Linked DNA regions of Homo sapiens. The protein of the gene in region 1 interacts with the protein of each later gene in a pairwise test. Each region holds a gene or a part of one and is shown in the gene's direction. Other genes may lie near its edges.

What was found. The genes of interacting proteins can lie anywhere in the genome.
Region 2: the proteins of ADAMTSL4 (region 1) and TFAP2D interact in binary tests that used the Homo sapiens proteins (3 or more experiments, as listed by UniProt).
Region 3: the proteins of ADAMTSL4 (region 1) and ADAMTSL5 interact in binary tests that used the Homo sapiens proteins (3 or more experiments, as listed by UniProt).
Region 4: the proteins of ADAMTSL4 (region 1) and CTSB interact in binary tests that used the Homo sapiens proteins (3 or more experiments, as listed by UniProt).

Annotation. Positions count from the first base shown.
Region 1 is NC_000001.11:150,555,221-150,560,216, forward strand, and holds part of ADAMTSL4 (ADAMTS-like protein 4 isoform 1 precursor), read left to right. Parts: intron 1-208; coding exon 209-345; intron 346-733; exon of another isoform or gene 734-832; intron 833-927; exon of another isoform or gene 928-941; coding exon 942-1,146; intron 1,147-1,387; exon of another isoform or gene 1,388-1,400; coding exon 1,401-1,573; intron 1,574-1,718; coding exon 1,719-1,830; intron 1,831-1,929; coding exon 1,930-2,115; intron 2,116-2,273; coding exon 2,274-2,403; intron 2,404-2,472; exon of another isoform or gene 2,473-2,504; intron 2,505-2,724; coding exon 2,725-2,929; intron 2,930-3,016; coding exon of another isoform or gene 3,017-3,072; exon of another isoform or gene 3,073-3,252; coding exon 3,253-3,429; coding exon of another isoform or gene 3,430-3,504; exon of another isoform or gene 3,505-3,528; intron 3,529-3,741; coding exon 3,742-3,945; intron 3,946-4,066; coding exon 4,067-4,246; intron 4,247-4,540; coding exon 4,541-4,685; intron 4,686-4,839; coding exon 4,840-4,976; 3' UTR 4,977-4,996. UniProt on the Homo sapiens protein: Positive regulation of apoptosis. May facilitate FBN1 microfibril biogenesis.
Region 2 is NC_000006.12:50,711,555-50,716,411, forward strand, and holds the start of TFAP2D (transcription factor AP-2-delta), read left to right. Parts: upstream 1-1,971; 5' UTR 1,972-2,501; coding exon 2,502-2,540; intron 2,541-3,561; coding exon 3,562-4,059; intron 4,060-4,857.
Region 3 is NC_000019.10:1,504,436-1,508,000, reverse strand, and holds the end of ADAMTSL5 (ADAMTS-like protein 5 isoform 2 precursor), read left to right. Parts: coding exon 1-3; exon of another isoform or gene 4-9; intron 10-357; coding exon 358-444; coding exon of another isoform or gene 445-456; intron 457-595; coding exon 596-759; intron 760-1,072; coding exon 1,073-1,262; intron 1,263-1,339; coding exon 1,340-1,411; intron 1,412-1,684; coding exon 1,685-1,986; 3' UTR 1,987-2,979; downstream 2,980-3,565. UniProt on the Homo sapiens protein: May play a role in modulation of fibrillin microfibrils in the extracellular matrix (ECM).
Region 4 is NC_000008.11:11,854,502-11,858,817, reverse strand, and holds part of CTSB (cathepsin B isoform 1 preproprotein), read left to right. Parts: intron 1-877; exon of another isoform or gene 878-960; intron 961-4,316. UniProt on the Homo sapiens protein: Thiol protease which is believed to participate in intracellular degradation and turnover of proteins. Cleaves matrix extracellular phosphoglycoprotein MEPE. Involved in the solubilization of cross-linked TG/thyroglobulin in the thyroid follicle lumen.

The DNA of each region.
Region 1 (4,996 bases):
CGAATGATGCACCCACCTCGGCCTCCCAGAGTGCTGGGATTACAGGCATGAGCCACTGCGCCCGGCCCTGACCACCTCAGCTTGTGCTGTTGTCACATTTCCTTCATCCACAGTGACCTGGGCAACCTCAAGGTGCCCCCTCTGGGGCCTCTCTCAGCTAACCTCCCACCAGGGAGCCCACTAACCACCCTTCTACCCTGTCCCTTAGTCCAGGGCTCCCAGCGCTGTGAACTGAACTGCCGGCCCCGTGGCTTCCGCTTCTATGTCCGTCACACTGAAAAGGTCCAGGATGGGACCCTGTGTCAGCCTGGAGCCCCTGACATCTGTGTGGCTGGACGCTGTCTGGTGAGGGAAGACAGTGTGTGTGTGCACACACACATGCATATGCACACAGACACATGCCCCCATATGCATACACATGTACACACATATGTATGAACACATGCACACATGCAAGCACATACACACACGCATATGCGCACAGACACATGCACACACGCACACACACACACGCACACACACGCATATGCACACACATGCACATGCATATGCAGACACATGCATGCACATGTGCACACGTGCATGAACACATGCACACACACGTATGCAGACACATGCACACACATGTAGACACACATGCATGAACACATGCACACATGCACACACACGTATTTGCACAGTCTCAATTCAACAACAAAACACCATACTGAGATCACTGAGGGAGAATTCTCACCTGCCAAGCTGCGCTGAGCAGAGCCTGAAGGATCTGATCGGGCACCTGTCCATGTCCCTGGGTCTGGCTGGGGATGGTGGGGCTGTTTTTGTGCTCTCACTTGTGGCACAAAAAGCAGGGTAGTGAGCTGAGGCTCCCGAGGGGACCGGGGTGGGGTTGAGGTGGTGTCTGGCGTTCTGTGGCCACTGCCTCACCTCACTCTCTCCAGAGCCCCGGCTGTGATGGGATCCTTGGCTCTGGCAGGCGTCCTGATGGCTGTGGAGTCTGTGGGGGTGATGATTCTACCTGTCGCCTTGTTTCGGGGAACCTCACTGACCGAGGGGGCCCCCTGGGCTATCAGAAGATCTTGTGGATTCCAGCGGGAGCCTTGCGGCTCCAGATTGCCCAGCTCCGGCCTAGCTCCAACTACCTGGGTGAGCACCCAGCTGCCTCCCCTTCCACTTCCGTCTCTGTTCGGCCCTCCATACCCCTACTCAGAGCAGTGAGCAAGCCAAACAGGGGGAAGTCCAGGGCCTAGCCCCTCCCCTCGTGGAAGGAGTGAGGAAGCTGAGAGGGCTTGGGGGGATCTTAGGTTCTGGTGGGAGCTTCTATAGGCTAAGGACACGGTGTGGGAGGAGGAAGGTATTATCACCCTGGAATTTCCCGATCTCTCACCTCTGACCCGCAGCACTTCGTGGCCCTGGGGGCCGGTCCATCATCAATGGGAACTGGGCTGTGGATCCCCCTGGGTCCTACAGGGCCGGCGGGACCGTCTTTCGATATAACCGTCCTCCCAGGGAGGAGGGCAAAGGGGAGAGTCTGTCGGCTGAAGGCCCCACCACCCAGCCTGTGGATGTCTATGTGAGCCTGGGGCCAGGGGCAGCTGAATGCTGGGGAGGGAGGCTGTTCCCTCTGGGCAGAGCTGTGGTTGTCAAGATGGGAGAGAGAGCTGGTGGCATCCTCTTCTGGCCACCCCCACATATTCATTATCTTCTCTTCTCCCCAGATGATCTTTCAGGAGGAAAACCCAGGCGTTTTTTATCAGTATGTCATCTCTTCACCTCCTCCAATCCTTGAGAACCCCACCCCAGAGCCCCCTGTCCCCCAGCTTCAGCCGGGTAAGACTCTGACCCCTGCACTTGGAAGGAGGAGGGAGAGGCTGCAGGGCTGGCTCGGGGCAGTGGGGTGGCATCTGATTCGCCTGCTCCCCTGCACAGAGATTCTGAGGGTGGAGCCCCCACTTGCTCCGGCACCCCGCCCAGCCCGGACCCCAGGCACCCTCCAGCGTCAGGTGCGGATCCCCCAGATGCCCGCCCCGCCCCATCCCAGGACACCCCTGGGGTCTCCAGCTGCGTACTGGAAACGAGTGGGACACTCTGCATGCTCAGCGTCCTGCGGGAAAGGTGAGACATCACAGTGCGTTCCCCGCATCTCGGTCCAAACCCCCCAACTGACACTCCCGCATCCTGGATTGTGGGGCCACGCCCGACCCTGCGTCTGGGACACCACTGAGCTTGGGCTCTAGCCTCCTGCCTCCCTGGCTGCCTTCTCACCCACTCAGGTGTCTGGCGCCCCATTTTCCTCTGCATCTCCCGTGAGTCGGGAGAGGAACTGGATGAACGCAGCTGTGCCGCGGGTGCCAGGCCCCCAGCCTCCCCTGAACCCTGCCACGGCACCCCATGCCCCCCATAGTGAGTATGGGGGAGCCCACGGGGAGGGTTAGGGTACTGGAAACACAGCAGTTGCCCCCAGAATCTTACCTGAACTCTGCACTCAACGCAACATCTCCTGGCTGCAGAGAGACAACATTAGATTAGAAAGGCAGACATTCGGTAGGCAGCAAGAAAGCCATGGCAGGCTGAGCCCCCCAGGAACCCAGACTCCAAACGCCAAACGTGCCCACTCTCCTCTGAGGCCCCCACGTCCAGTGTGTCTTCCATCTCTGCTGCCACGGCAGCCCCACACATCTCATCTATGTCTCCGCCTCTTCCCTGCCCTGCTGGTGCCTGCAGCTGGGAGGCTGGCGAGTGGACATCCTGCAGCCGCTCCTGTGGCCCCGGCACCCAGCACCGCCAGCTGCAGTGCCGGCAGGAATTTGGGGGGGGTGGCTCCTCGGTGCCCCCGGAGCGCTGTGGACATCTCCCCCGGCCCAACATCACCCAGTCTTGCCAGCTGCGCCTCTGTGGCCATTGGGAAGTTGGCTCTCCTTGGAGCCAGGTGAGTTTGCCCAGGCAAGGAGGTGCTGGGGAGGGGAATGGGCACAGGTGAACAACAGCAGTGGTTTTTCAACTTCTTTTTCATCAGCAGAAACTATTTACAAACAGGGTTTCATATGGACCCCCAATATAGAAGTCAGATAAGGGACTGAACCAGGGACTGGGGGCCCAGGGCCCTAGGGCTCAGCCTCCTCCTCAGCCCACGAAGCCATGTGACTGCTGGGCTGGGGATCGAAGGCAGAGCCTGGTTCTGAAGCCTAGAGCTGGAAGCTGGCTGAGAAGGTCTGGGAAGCCCAGCTCCCTGGATTCCCCTCGCCCCCTCAGTGCTCCGTGCGGTGCGGCCGGGGCCAGAGAAGCCGGCAGGTTCGCTGTGTTGGGAACAATGGTGATGAAGTGAGCGAGCAGGAGTGTGCGTCAGGCCCCCCGCAGCCCCCCAGCAGAGAGGCCTGTGACATGGGGCCCTGTACTACTGCCTGGTTCCACAGCGACTGGAGCTCCAAGGTGAGCCCGGAACCCCCAGCCATATCCTGCATCCTGGGTAACCACGCCCAGGACACCTCAGCCTTTCCAGCATAGCTCAATAAACTTGTATTGATCAAGCGCCTGCTATATGCCTGACCCTGGGAACTCAGAGATAAGTGAGAACAACTTCCATGAGGGGCCCGGCTAGGATTCCTCGTCCGGGCCTGGTACCCGGGGACATTCCCAACCACCCAGGATTCGGACCCAGGATGCGTCCCTCCCTGCCCCCCTACTGTCCCTTGTGCCAGTCACCAGCAGGCCCCTCACACAGGCCGCTCTCCTCCTCCGCAGTGCTCAGCCGAGTGTGGGACGGGAATCCAGCGGCGCTCTGTGGTCTGCCTTGGGAGTGGGGCAGCCCTCGGGCCAGGCCAGGGGGAAGCAGGAGCAGGAACTGGGCAGAGCTGTCCAACAGGAAGCCGGCCCCCTGACATGCGCGCCTGCAGCCTGGGGCCCTGTGAGAGAACTTGGCGCTGGTACACAGGGCCCTGGGGTGAGGTAAGCTGAGCGCCTGCTGAGAGCAGGAAGGGGGTGCCAGTCCCAGTGGGATTCCTTGTGGGCACTTGGGGTGCTCTCTGTCCTCCCCTCCCCTCATCACCCTGCCCTCCCCCTACACTAGTGCTCCTCCGAATGTGGCTCTGGCACACAGCGTAGAGACATCATCTGTGTATCCAAACTGGGGACGGAGTTCAACGTGACTTCTCCGAGCAACTGTTCTCACCTCCCCAGGCCCCCTGCCCTGCAGCCCTGTCAAGGGCAGGCCTGCCAGGACCGATGGTTTTCCACGCCCTGGAGCCCAGTGAGTGTCTGGCTGCGCTGTCCTGCCCTGCTCAGCCTGGGCCCCTAGGGGAGGGGAGCTCCTCTCGCTGTACCCCCTCCAGGTCTCTCTGTGCCCCAGAATAAGCCCAGCCAAGCGTTACCACTGTCCTACTTCTTATAGACTTGGAGGAAAGATGGGCCCTCTCCATTTGGGATTTCACAATGTCCTAGGAGGGTCCCCACCACCACCTTTTGGGGAGAGAGGTGGCAGCCAGGGGTTAAGGAGAATCCCGGGCCTGGCAAAGGTCTGATATGATGGCTGGGGTCGCCCCAGTGTTCTCGCTCCTGCCAAGGGGGAACGCAGACACGGGAGGTCCAGTGCCTGAGCACCAACCAGACCCTCAGCACCCGATGCCCTCCTCAACTGCGGCCCTCCAGGAAGCGCCCCTGTAACAGCCAACCCTGCAGCCAGCGCCCTGGTAAAGAGCCCCCTCTCCCCAATCCCCAATACAGTGGATTAGCTGAAGTATGGGAGGAGATGAGAAAGGACCAGTGGGAATGGGCAGCACACCCATTCCCAGACGGGTGGGTCCTGGTGACTCTCTTGTGCCCACTGGCCTCCTCTGTCCCCAGATGATCAATGCAAGGACAGCTCTCCACATTGCCCCCTGGTGGTACAGGCCCGGCTCTGCGTCTACCCCTACTACACAGCCACCTGTTGCCGCTCTTGCGCACATGTCCTGGAGCGGTCTCCCCAGGATCCCTCCTGAAAGGGGTCCGGGGCACCTTC
Region 2 (4,857 bases), on another chromosome or scaffold:
ACTCAGGAAAGTGAACCATGAAAGTGGGGTTAGGGGGTGGAATGCGATGATTGCCAGTTAGTTGGTGATGTCCTGATGTTCACAGGGTCCAGGCTACTGGAGGTCATTCCATGGGGTGTACTCAGTTCAAGGCCAGAGCTCATTACCGAGAGTATCATAAAGCTATATCTTCTGAGTGCGGTGGCAGGGGTGAGGGGGGCTATGTGTGGCTCTTATTCCAGACAGGGACAAACATGTGGAACAAACACTCTGGGCCAGCAGGCAGAGCAGGCGGCCACATCTTCCTGAGCTTCCTCATTGTTGTTCCCCGGGGAGAGGGTTTTGTGTCTGCTGCCTGGACCTAAACTGGGAAGAGAAGGTACCGTCACCTTCAATGAAGGTGTATCTGACAGTAGGGGTGTTGGAAAGGAGATTGCAACATGTCTGAGAAGGGCTATCCTCTTCCATTTGACCGGGACTAACTGGGAAGCCAATATCATCCACCAGGAAAAGCGCACCTGGGCATTCCCCAAGATAACCTGCAAGTCCTACATATTCTTCCAGGGAATGGTCTGCACTTTCCCAGGGGCAGGGGTGCCTGAGTTAAGGTCGTGGGGGCAGTCTCCATCTCCCAGAGATGATTAGTTATTTTCTCCGTGGGTAAGCTATGGAGGCCCCACTCAGACCTGGTAAACAAAGACTCCACTGCAAACATTTTTGGGATTCAACCCCTAGAGCCAACAGCACTCATTTTACCCCTTTTACTTAAAGATTAAGTTGGATATTCTTCCTTTTTGTCATCATTGGTCTCTCAGTCTCCTTACTTCATTAGGCCAAAATATGGAATTTCAAGGAGGGGTGGGAGGGGGGCAGCACTGGCACACCTTGAAATAGGGAACAAGTGTTGGCTGCTGACCCCATGTGGGGCTGAAGAATCGTGTATCTCCATTTCAGACAATGCATTTCAATTCTTGTCGTGTGCCTTTGTCCATTTGTATAAAGCAAAGAGCTCTGAGTGACAGCCCCAGTTAGCCTGCATGAGCAGATCCTAATAAACCCTCCCAAACCCCAACCTAAAAAAAAAAAAAGCCACATGCCTGTTTGCCTGAGGCTTATTATTAAGACACCTTCTCAGCTTAAACACTTAAAAGCAAACCAAATGAAATGGCAATTAAGACTGAATTACCCCTTCTATCTATGAGATGAGTCTGTGGGGCCAGCCAGTTCTTTCTTATAATGTAGACACTGAGGAGCAAAGCCTCAGTATTTCAGGTTTATAGCTACCACCACCCCCTCCAGGCACTAAACAACTTGGTGGAGGAAGCTGAATTTTGAAGGAAGGAAAGCTCAAAAACTGTTTGAAAGTCAAGAAATCCACTGAAGAGATGGAAATATGTGTGCACTGCTTCCTTCCTGCCCTCTATTTATAAAATATAACTTCCAAGCATTTAAGGGTTATTTTGGGGGTAATAGTGTTCAAAAACCTAATGCTACTGCTGAACGGTCTACACCCCACCACCACCAGCAGTGTTTCCAAAAGGGAAGAAGAAAAACACAAAAGAGGGGGGATATGGTTTGGTTTGGGGAGTGAAAGACAACAGTTTACCTAAATGTAGAATCTTGTCTTACATCTTTATTCCCTTGCATTTTTCCTAAATGCATTGCCAGTTACACCATTTCCTGATGATGGAAACTTGGGACTGTCCATCACCATTATTTATTTTTAAAGCTGCTGAAAAGTGTAAGCCACCGCTTGATTTTGCCTTTCAAAAAAGGGGAAAGAACCCAAATTCAATGTAAATATGGAAAGACCAGCATTGTTTCCACTTGGGCGAAGGCAGACACCCCAATCTGGGCAAAATTGATTCGGGTGGTTGTTGGAAAAAGCAGCTTTCAGCATCCAGGGAGTGGAACCAATAGGAATGAACACTTCCCCATATAAAAGGAAGCTTTAATTAATATATATTTCTATCTCTAATATACATATATTGGAGCTAGAGCTCTAGCTTCACAATAAAATGTGTGCAAATACTCTCCACAGAGATAAGTCCCCACCTCAGTCGGTATAGAAAAGCATGATAAAGGTTGGAAAAAATGGATAAAAATGTTGAAAGAACCTCCAGTTCCTTATTAGGCGAAGATACAATATTTATTCCTTGTCTCCTGGGATAAATCTCTTCTGCCTATTGTCCTCCCAGTTCTCAGTGCTGATGCTTAATTTTCAAAACTTCTATATTACCAAGGGACCTACGACATCAGCCAAAGAAATACTCAGCAAGTACAAAATCTGTTCCAGGGAGCTGCTTTTGTGCAGAGGGAAAATTTTGTTCCTACAGGTTTTTAAGTGGGTACGAGGCAAGGAGCTATCTGATCCGGGCAAAACCATTACAATTTAGATATCTACCTATAGAACATTTTTTTTTTCCTTTAAAAATTGGAAAATACAAGAAGTTTGGATTTTTTTTTCCCGATTCTTTTTTTGGAGGGGGAAATTGCATCGTAAGCTTTCGGAGAAACCCAACATGTCAACTACCTTTCCGGGACTAGTCCACGATGCCGAGGTATTATTACTTTTTTTTTTTTTTTTTTTTGAGCGCGCGTGTGTGTGGCGGCGGCGGCGGTGGCGGCGGTGGCGGCGGCGGTGGCAGCCTCCCCTGTCTCTAATCTATATTGGACCGTTACGTTTAATTATAATCTGTCTTTCGGGGGAAGTTAAGGAAGGAAAGGGGAGAAAGTTCGTTATGACATCTGTCGCCAGGGAGGGCAACTCTCTGCCACGTTAAGAAACATTTGCCATAATGAGCGGGAAAACATAATCTTAATAATAAAAGGGGGGAGTGAAGAGAAAGAGATAGAGACGGAAAGAAAGATTCTCAGAAAAGCAAAGAAAAGGGACTGGTGGGGAAGCAGTAGATGCACAAGGGGGATGGGGAAAACGCACCCCTTTTGGAATGGGCTTATTCAAGGAAAGGGAAGCAGAAAAGAGGGAGTCGGATTCCCTCCCTCGAATGACTAAGGAAGGGAGCAAGTTGAACGATTTGCACAGACTGGATTTTTTAAAATATATGGACAATGATTTTGAGCAGCCCGGGCCGAACATCTCGGCATAGACAGGCGCAGAATTTCGATGCTGGGGTCTAGTTAGAGTGGCAAGGCGCCCCGGGCCAGCGCTCTTTTCGGGTGGACTCGTTCCTCTGCTACCCGCGGCCCCGGAGTCAGTTGCAAACCTGGATCCCAACGCCAAGCTCCCTGCACAAGTTGGGCAGGGGCTGTGTGTGTGTCTGTGTGTGTGTGTCTGTGCGTGTGTGTGCGTGTGTGGTGTCACCCGCACCTATATAGGGTGGGGGATTTTTTTTCCGCTCTCTCGACTGTGAGGACGAGGCCGCCCACCCCCAGTTCGCCTGTTTGCAAAGGCTCTCTGGTGAAGACGCTGAGACCCGGCTTCGGCTCGGCCCGAGTCCTACGCGCTCGCTTTCCTTGGAGTGCCAGAGAAAGCTCCTGGCTCCGGGAGAGCGGCGCCTTGGTTGCAAAATGACAAACCTCAAGTTTTTCTGCTCTCCCTTTTCCCCCTCTTCCTTCCAGATACGTCACGACGGATCAAACAGCTACCGTTTGATGCAGCTTGGCTGTCTGGAGTCAGTAGCCAATTCCACTGTCGCCTATTCCTCCTCCTCTCCTTTAACTTACTCCACCACCGGCACCGAGTTTGCGTCCCCCTACTTCTCCACTAACCACCAGTACACCCCGCTCCACCACCAGTCCTTCCATTACGAGTTTCAGCACAGCCACCCGGCCGTCACCCCCGACGCCTACTCTCTGAACTCTCTCCACCACTCGCAACAGTACTACCAGCAGATCCACCACGGGGAGCCCACCGACTTTATTAACCTGCACAATGCGCGGGCGCTCAAGTCGTCCTGCCTGGACGAGCAGAGGCGGGAGCTGGGCTGCCTCGATGCCTACCGCCGCCATGACCTGTCCCTCATGAGCCATGGCTCTCAGTATGGAATGCACCCAGATCAAAGACTCCTGCCAGGGCCCAGCCTGGGGCTGGCCGCCGCGGGAGCAGACGACTTGCAGGTAAATAAGCATGCAGCGAATTTGTCTGCTCCCTCCCCTCTTCGCCCTCCCCCTGCCGCCCCATTAATGCTCCGACTGTAAAGCGTCTCTCTTTCTCTCTCTCTTCTCCTCTCTCTCTCTCTCTCTCTCTCTCTCTCACACACACACACACACACACACACACACACCACTTATGGAAAGTTATCAAAACAATTAGAGGAGGAGTGTGCCCGTTCTCTTCCTCTCATTGGATCCAAGCATTTCACCTGGAAGTGCGGGAGTCCGGGCGGCTGCGGCCCTCCATCTTTGGTTTGTCCTCACAGAAGTCTTTTGTGAATCAACATTTGTGACCCTGAGGGGATGAGGTGGAGGAGATCGAGGAGTCTGGGGTTGGGCCAACCGGACTCAGAGTAAGATCCAATAAATTGATGACCAATCGTACCCTCAATCTCCGCACTTTACAGGGTCTTCCGAGGCGTCCCAGGTGTTTGTCTCAGACTGAGCTTGTGGAGATCTTACTACAAACAGGCTTGTTCTAAGGAAATTGTTGGGACCCTAAGCTTGAACAAAAGTTTCACCAAATACACTAGATATCTGTGGAAAGTAAAGAATCGCAAATGAAAGTCTCAAAGTTCTACCCCAAGGAAATAATCCGCACAGTGCACTTTGCCAGGGTGTAGGGTTGAGTTTAATTCTCTCCGCCTGACGTGCACTCAAAACCGCAGCCCAGTTAGGTAATTTACAAGTTTATTTTTGCTCTTCCAGCCATTACATTTTACGTAAAATGCACCTCCTTAAAAAGATAAAAATGAGGCAGTA
Region 3 (3,565 bases), on another chromosome or scaffold:
CCGGTGACTACCTGCCCCGCCCTCCCTGCACACACGTCAGAGTGGGCCCTTTAACGAGCCGTGGCCCGGAAGCAAATTTCCGTGCTGATTGGCCAGTGTGCGGCCCAGCCCCCCTTTCTCCTCATCCTGATTGGCTACTGACAGATTGTCCCGCCCTTCCCCAGGACAGATGGGGTTTTAACCCTTTCCCTGCCACACTGAAGCAATAGTAATTGTAACTCCAAACGTTTACGGAGGGTTTTCCGGTTCCCAGGACCCTGGCTAGCTGTCTTACCCGCAGTAGCTCATTAAATCCTCAAGTCATCGCTCAAATACACCCCCACTGGCACCCCAACACCCTCCTACCCTCCCACCCAGGTGCCTTCGCTGGGTACTGGAACGTGACCCTGATCCCCGAGGGCGCCAGACACATCCGCGTGGAACACAGGAGCCGCAACCACCTGGGTATCCTAGGATGTGAGGCGAGAGGCACCCGGCTGGGCACCCGGGGGCGGTTGTCCCTGTTTACAGATGGGGAGACTGAGGCCTGAGGAGGGGACCCCAGGGTCTGGGAGACGAGACGACAGGTTCCTGAGGGCTGACTGTTCCCTTGCAGCACTGATGGGGGGCGATGGGCGCTACGTGCTTAATGGGCACTGGGTGGTCAGCCCACCAGGGACCTACGAGGCGGCCGGCACGCATGTGGTCTACACCCGAGACACAGGGCCCCAGGAGACATTGCAAGCAGCCGGGCCCACCTCCCATGACCTGCTCCTACAGGTGCCACTGGGCCTCCAACAGGGTCAGAGGGGGTCGGCTGGGGACAGAGGGGAGAGGCTGGGGACAGAGGGTAGGAGTGGAGGTGACTGGGGCCAGAAGGGGGAGTCTGGGGTCAGAGGGGAGAGGCTGGGACAGAGCATCAGAGGGGGGAGGGTGGGGACAGGGTCAGAGGGGATCAGCTAGGGACAGAGCATCAGAGGAGGGAGGCTGGGGGCAGACAGGATCAAAGTGGGGAGGCTGGGGTCGTAGGGTCAGAGGCAGGAGGCAACCCCAGCCTCCTGTGAAGCTCCCTGTGTCCCCTCCCCTGCTCCAGGTCCTCCTGCAGGAGCCCAACCCTGGCATCGAGTTTGAGTTCTGGCTCCCTCGGGAGCGCTACAGCCCCTTCCAGGCTCGTGTGCAGGCCCTGGGCTGGCCCCTGAGGCAGCCTCAGCCCCGGGGGGTGGAGCCTCAGCCCCCCGCAGCCCCTGCTGTCACCCCTGCACAGACCCCAACGCTGGCCCCAGGTGAGGTGGGGACAGCCAGGGTGGGGGATGAGTGGGGACTGAGGCCTGTGCCCCTCACAGCACCGCCCATCCCACAGACCCCTGCCCACCCTGCCCTGACACCCGCGGCCGCGCCCACCGACTACTCCACTATTGCGGCAGTGACTTTGGTGAGACCCCCGACCTCTACCCTGACTTAGCCCCTACTAACCTGGCCTCCTCCTGACCTCTGACCCTAATCTGACTTTACCCTTGACCCCTTCTTCTGATCCTAATTTGCCTCTTGACCCTAATCCCTCATTGATCCCTGACGTGATCCTGACTCTAGTCCCTATAGATCCCGAGGTCCCACCTGACCCTCAGTCCCTCTTCTGGCAAGGGAGGGGGCGTAGAGATTTGCGCAGAGTTGAGCAGCCAGCCAGCTTAGCACGTCCCCTCAACAGTGTTCCAGGCCCGAGTGCTGGGCCACCACCACCAGGCCCAGGAGACCCGCTATGAGGTGCGCATCCAGCTCGTCTACAAGAACCGCTCGCCACTGCGGGCACGCGAGTACGTGTGGGCGCCAGGCCACTGCCCCTGCCCGATGCTGGCACCCCACCGGGACTACCTGATGGCTGTCCAGCGTCTTGTCAGCCCCGACGGCACACAGGACCAGCTGCTGCTGCCCCACGCCGGCTACGCCCGGCCCTGGAGCCCTGCGGAGGACAGCCGCATACGCCTGACTGCCCGGCGCTGTCCTGGCTGAGCCCCTGCAGGAGCCCCGGCCACACACAGCAAGAAAGATACATCTGACCAGCCTCAACGTCAACGTATTTCCCCTCTCACCCTGGCTTCCAGGCAGCTCTGAAATACGTCCCACCTGTGCAGCTATGTGACTCCCTCCCACACACGCTTAAGACACCTCTGCATGCAGTCAAAGCCACTGTCACAAGCCGGCAGGCACTGGTGAGGAGGCACTAAGGAGACTCTGACTTTTATTTCGCCTCTCTCCTTGGCTGCCAGGAAGCTCATAGCTATTTATACTCAGAAAGTTTAACGCTGCTTTCTTTCTCTTTGCGCGCGTCACACTTGCTTGGAGACACTGTCATGAACGAGCATGACACCCTGCTGCCCTGGGTACCCAGAAGATCATCTGTTTACTTCCCAGACACTGTGCTGTCTCTGCTCTCTGCTACTCACACACACCCTCATGTGTGAAGGGCAGAGACACTGTCACAAACAGGCATGCCCCTTAGAAGACATGCCTAACCAGGCACTGTAACGTACCAACGTACCAATTTCCCCTTTTCCCCTGGCTACCAGGAAACTCGGAGACAATCTTTTCAGCCTCAGCATTTCTGGCTGGATTTCCACCCATCAACACGTGCTTGCTCCTCCTTTTTTTTTTTTTCTGAGGTAGACCCTTGCTCTGTCACCTAGGCTGAAGTGCGGTGGTGCAATCATGGCTCACTGCAGCCTCAAATTCCTGGGCTCAAGCGATCCTCCCACCTCAGCCTCCACAGCAGCTGGAACTCCAGGTGTGAATCACCATGCCCGGCTAACTTTTAAATTTTTTGTAGAGATGGGGTCTTGCTACGTTGCCCACACTGCTCTCCAACTACTGGCCTCAAACGATCCTCCTGCCTCGGCCTCCCAAAGCACTGGAATTTCAGGCATGCACTATCGTACTGGCTGTTCACCCCCCTTTTATTCCTCTTTAATTTTTACAAGCACTTTTTAAAAAAAAATTTTACTTTAAGTTCTGGGTGTGTACAGAATGTGCAGGTTTATTACATTAGTATACACGTGCCATGGTGGTTTGTGGCACCCATCAACCCATCATCTAGGTTTTAAGCCCCACATGCATTAGGTATTTGTGCTAATGCTCTCCCTCCCCTCGGCCCCCACCCCACAAAGGACCCGGTGTGTGATGTTCCCCTCCCTGTGTCCATGTGTTCTCATTGTTCAACTCCCACTTGTGAGTGAGAACAAGTGGTGTTTGGTTTTCTGTTCCTGTGTGAGTTTGCTGAGAATGATGGCTTCTAGCTTCATCCATGTCCCTGCAAAGGACATGAACTCATCCTTTTTTATGGCTGCAGAGCACTTTTTTTTTTTTTAAGCACCCCAGTCACATGCACTCGGTCACAGAGACTCAGGGACACGCTGGTAGAACCCCGTCTCGACCTTGCTCATGGGTAGGCACGCATGTTCACACGCACCCCACCCCTCCTCCTGGTCCAGCCTCACCTCCTCCCTGCACGTCTGACACTGTGTGAGGTGAGGGCAGGGAATAGAGGAGGATAGGAGCAGGTGGGGAATGAATGGGGCTTTGGTAGGTCCTGAGC
Region 4 (4,316 bases), on another chromosome or scaffold:
CAGCTCAGCTTGTCACTTTCACCATCTGCATTTGTCCAGAGTGATTGAGATTTGCGTTGTTGTGGAGAGAAAGGCGCCTGTTGCACAATGGAGTGAGATTGCCACTGCTGTCAGGACCTCTGTGTTTGGCTTGACACTTTTTGAGTTCTCAGCAGTCTCGGGACCCTCAAGAGTGGAAGCATTTTTGGATGTTAAATGCTGGGGTTAATTGAAGTTAAGAGCTTGTTTTACTGGGCATGGTGGCTCACACCTATAATCCCGACACTTTGGGAGGCCAAGGCGGGCAGATCACTTGAGTCCAGGAGTTTGAGACCAGCCTGGGCAACATAGCAAAACCCCATCTCTACAAAAAATACAAAGCTGGGCGTAGTGGTGTATGCCTGTAGTCCCAGCTCCTTAGGAGGCTGAGGGGAGCAGATCTCTTGAGCCCAGGAGGCAGAGTTTGCAGTGAGCCATGATCGTGCCACTGCACTCCAGCCTGGGCAACAGAGTGAGATCCTGTCTTAAAACAAACAAAAAAAACAAACTTGTTTTCATTTAGACTCTTCCTGGCGTTGGGGACCTATTGGAATAGGTTTAGTGTGAACTGAGAGCTAGAAGTGTTAGAGGAGAGAGGGAGGGAACAGAGCCCGCTGGAGCGAGTGCCCTTCCTACCTTATCACTGCATGCCAGGCATGTGCCGGCGCTTTGGTCCTCCTCATTTCATTCTTGACTGCCACCTGAGACACGATGGTTACTAGCTCCATTTTATAGGTGGTGAAACTGAGGCTTGGGGAAGGTCAGACCCCAAGGGTGCCATTTAGTCAGTGGCAGAGCCAGATCCAAATGCAGGTCTCCTGACTCCAAGTGCAGGGCTCATTTTATCGTCCGGTTGCAGCACGCTGGCGGCCCCTTGAGCCCCAACCTGGATACCATAGGGGAGGAGCAGAGAAGCCAGGAACACCACAGCCCTGGGCCAAGGTGCGGGGCTGAAAGAACTTCCCAGCGCTCAGCCTGGGACTAGTGGAATGGGCTGGGCCCTGGGGCTGGCAGCGGTGGCCCCGGGGAGCCTGGGAATGAGTAGGGAGCACAGGGAGGTGTGGGAGGGCCTGGGAACCATGAAAAGGAGGGCGGGTGCAGGGAAGTCGCCTGCTAGTGAAGTGGCGAGGGGGCCCTGTGGGACTCCAGGGAATGGCCACGGCAGGTTGTCCTCCAGGAGTTGAGAGCCACTGGACATGGCAGCTGCCTGTGTTCTCAGCCACCACAGTAACCAAAGAAATCTTGGTTTTAAAATTCAAGTTGCCATGGAAACGCTCCCATCCTCGACTTGGCTTATTATTTAAAATAACATCTCTACAGCACAAAGCCCCCGGGTACATCCAAGGACACTGCTGTCTGCCCACGAGACATGCTAACCTCACAGTGTGGAGGCTGTGTGGGTCACTGACATGCATGGCCACGTGAGACGCTGCCTACCCACGAGTCACGGAAAAGGGGAAGATTATTAAGAAAGTCACTAGGGGCCAGGTCCAGTGGCTCATGCCTGTAATCCTAGCACTTTGGGAAGCTGAGGCAGTTAGATCCCTTGAAGCCAGGAGTTCAAGACCAGCCTGGCCAACATAACGAAACACGGACTATACTACAAAAATTAGCCAAACGTGGTAGCACAGGCCTGTAATCCCAGCTACTCAGGAGGCTGAGGCACAAGAATCACTTGAACCTGGGAGGTAGAGGTTTCAGTGAGCCAAGATTGCGCCACTGTACTCCAGCATGTGCCACAGAGCGAGACTCCCATCTCAAAGTCACTAGGGAGGAAGCCTCATTGGTGGGAAGGAAGACCAAATTGGAAATGCTCTGAGGAATCATTAAAACAAATGTCCTTTTATCAGTTTGGTGGCTCAGGGCCTTTAGTAATACTGCCAACTATTTTTCCTAGAAGAAACAAAACTGAAATAATAGGAACATACTCACTTTTTTTTTTTTCTTAAAAGTAAGGGTATGTTGTGAAAAAAAGTCTCCCCACCGTAGTGACCGACTGCCGTGCATCTTCCTTGGCATTTTGCATGTAGTGGCAGGAGTGTTCCTACATGTGTAGATTGCTGAGAGGGTCAGATGCTTATGGTCCTCAGTCACCCACAGCTTGCTTTTTCCCCACTTAACATTGGGACTTGGGGCATTTTTACTCTGTTAATACAATAGAATTCACTTCAACTAGTTGGTTTTTTACTTTTATTTTATTATTATTATTTTTAGATGAAGTCTCAATCTGTCGTCCAGGCTGGAGTGCAGCCTCTGCCTCCTGGGTTCAAGTGATTCTACTGCCTCAGCCTCCCAAGTAGCTGGGATTACAGGCATGCGCCACCACGCCTGGCTAATTTTTTGTATTTAGTAGATACAGGGTTTCACCACCTTAGTCAGGCTGGTCTCTAACTCCTGACCTCAGGTGATCCAACCGCCTCGGCTACAGGCATGCGCCACCGTGCCCCACCAACTAATTGCTTTTTTAATGGTTGCTTCATATTCTATTTAACCACTTACCGTAATTTAACAGTTACTCTGTTATTGGATACTTGATTCATTTCCAGGACATGCAGATTTAGAAACTGGTGGGCGTTGCTGGTTGATGTCTCGGTGGTTGTGCCCACCCACCCCAGGCACTCATTATCATGCCTTCCGTTTCCCCACTTCCTAAGCCCTGCAAGAAGTGCCAAACTGTCCAGCCCTTGCCAATCTGATACATGCTGAATACCTCCTTGATTTTATCTGCACCTCCCTGAGGTTGAACTTATTTTACTTTATTTTATTTTATTTTTGAGGCAGAGTCTCACTGTCACCCAGGCAGGAATGCAGTGGTGAAATCTTGGCTCACTGCAATCTCCACCTCCTGGGTTCAAGTGAGTTGAAGCAATTCTCCTGTCTCAGCCTCCCAAGTAGCTGCGATTACAGGCACCTGCCACCACACCTGGGTAATTTTTGTATTTTTAGTGGAGACGGGGTTTCACCATGTTGGCCAGGCTGGTCTCAAACTCCTGACCTCAGGCGATCCACCTGCCTCAGCCTCCCAAAGTGCTGAGATTACAAGCTTGAGCCACCATGCCGGTTGAACTTATTTTTATCTGTGTTGGCCATTTGTAGTTTTTCTATTATGCTGGTTCCATTTTTCTGACTTTGAAGAGCCTTTTGTGGAAACGAAGCCTAAAGTATATGTGAGTACTGCTTTGTTTCGTCAGTTTTTGTTTTAAAGAGACTTTTCAGTGTAATGCAAGCATTTTCCCTTGAAGGCTGTGTTTCCTGTCAATCCTAAGCTTTCCTCCAGCATTACCTTTTTAAAAAACTTTATTTTCTATATTGATGGGGTCTCACAATGTTGTCCAGGCTGGTGTTGAACACCTGGCCTCAAGTGATCCACTTGCCTTGGCCTCCCAAAGTACTGGGATTATAGGCATCAGCCACCGCACCCAGCCTGTTTTTCAAAGGGCATTGATTTTTTTCATAAAACTTTTTAAATTAAGATCTGTGGGCCTGGTGCGGTGCCTCACGCCTGTCATCGCAGCACTTTGGGAGGCTGAGTCAGGTGGATCACGAGGTCAGGCGTTCGAGACCAGCCTGGCCAAAATGGTGAAACCCTGTCTTTACTAAAAATATGAAAATTAGCTGGGCATGATGGCACATGCCTGTAATCCCGCTGCTCGGGAAGCTGAGGTAGGAGAATAGCTTGAACCCAGGAGGCAGAGGTTGCAGTGAGCCGAGATCATGCCATTGCACTCCAGCCTGGGGGACAGAGTAAGACTCCGTCTCAAAAAAACAAAACAATTCTGTGTTGCATGTGGTACTTTTTGTGTGTGAGGAGTCCAGTGTGAAGATTCAGACTTCAGGCAGCCACTTGTACAAGCACTGTCCTGTTTCCTCTCTGGCCTCACCTAGGTAACGCTGATTCCTCCACGGAGGATGTGCTTCTGAGTGGTCCGTTGGGTGCTGTGCTGATGAGCATCACCCAGCATTTTACGACACATGTGCTGCCCCAGAGGGCTGGGCTCCCGTCAGAGCTCTTTTCCACTGGCTGGGTGCGGTGGCTCACACCTGTAATCCCAGCACTTTGGGAGGCTGAGGCCAGTGGATCACCTGAGGTCAGGAGTTCGAGACCAGCCTGGCTAACATGGTAAAACCCCATCTCTACTAAAAATACAGAAATTAGGTGCGTGTGGTGGCGCACACCTGTAATCCCAGCTACTTGGGAGGCTAAGAACCTGGGAGGTGGAGGCTGCAGTGAGCCAAGATTGTGCCACTGTACCCCAGACTGGGTGACATGGCCCACAGACCAAGACCCTGTCTCAAAA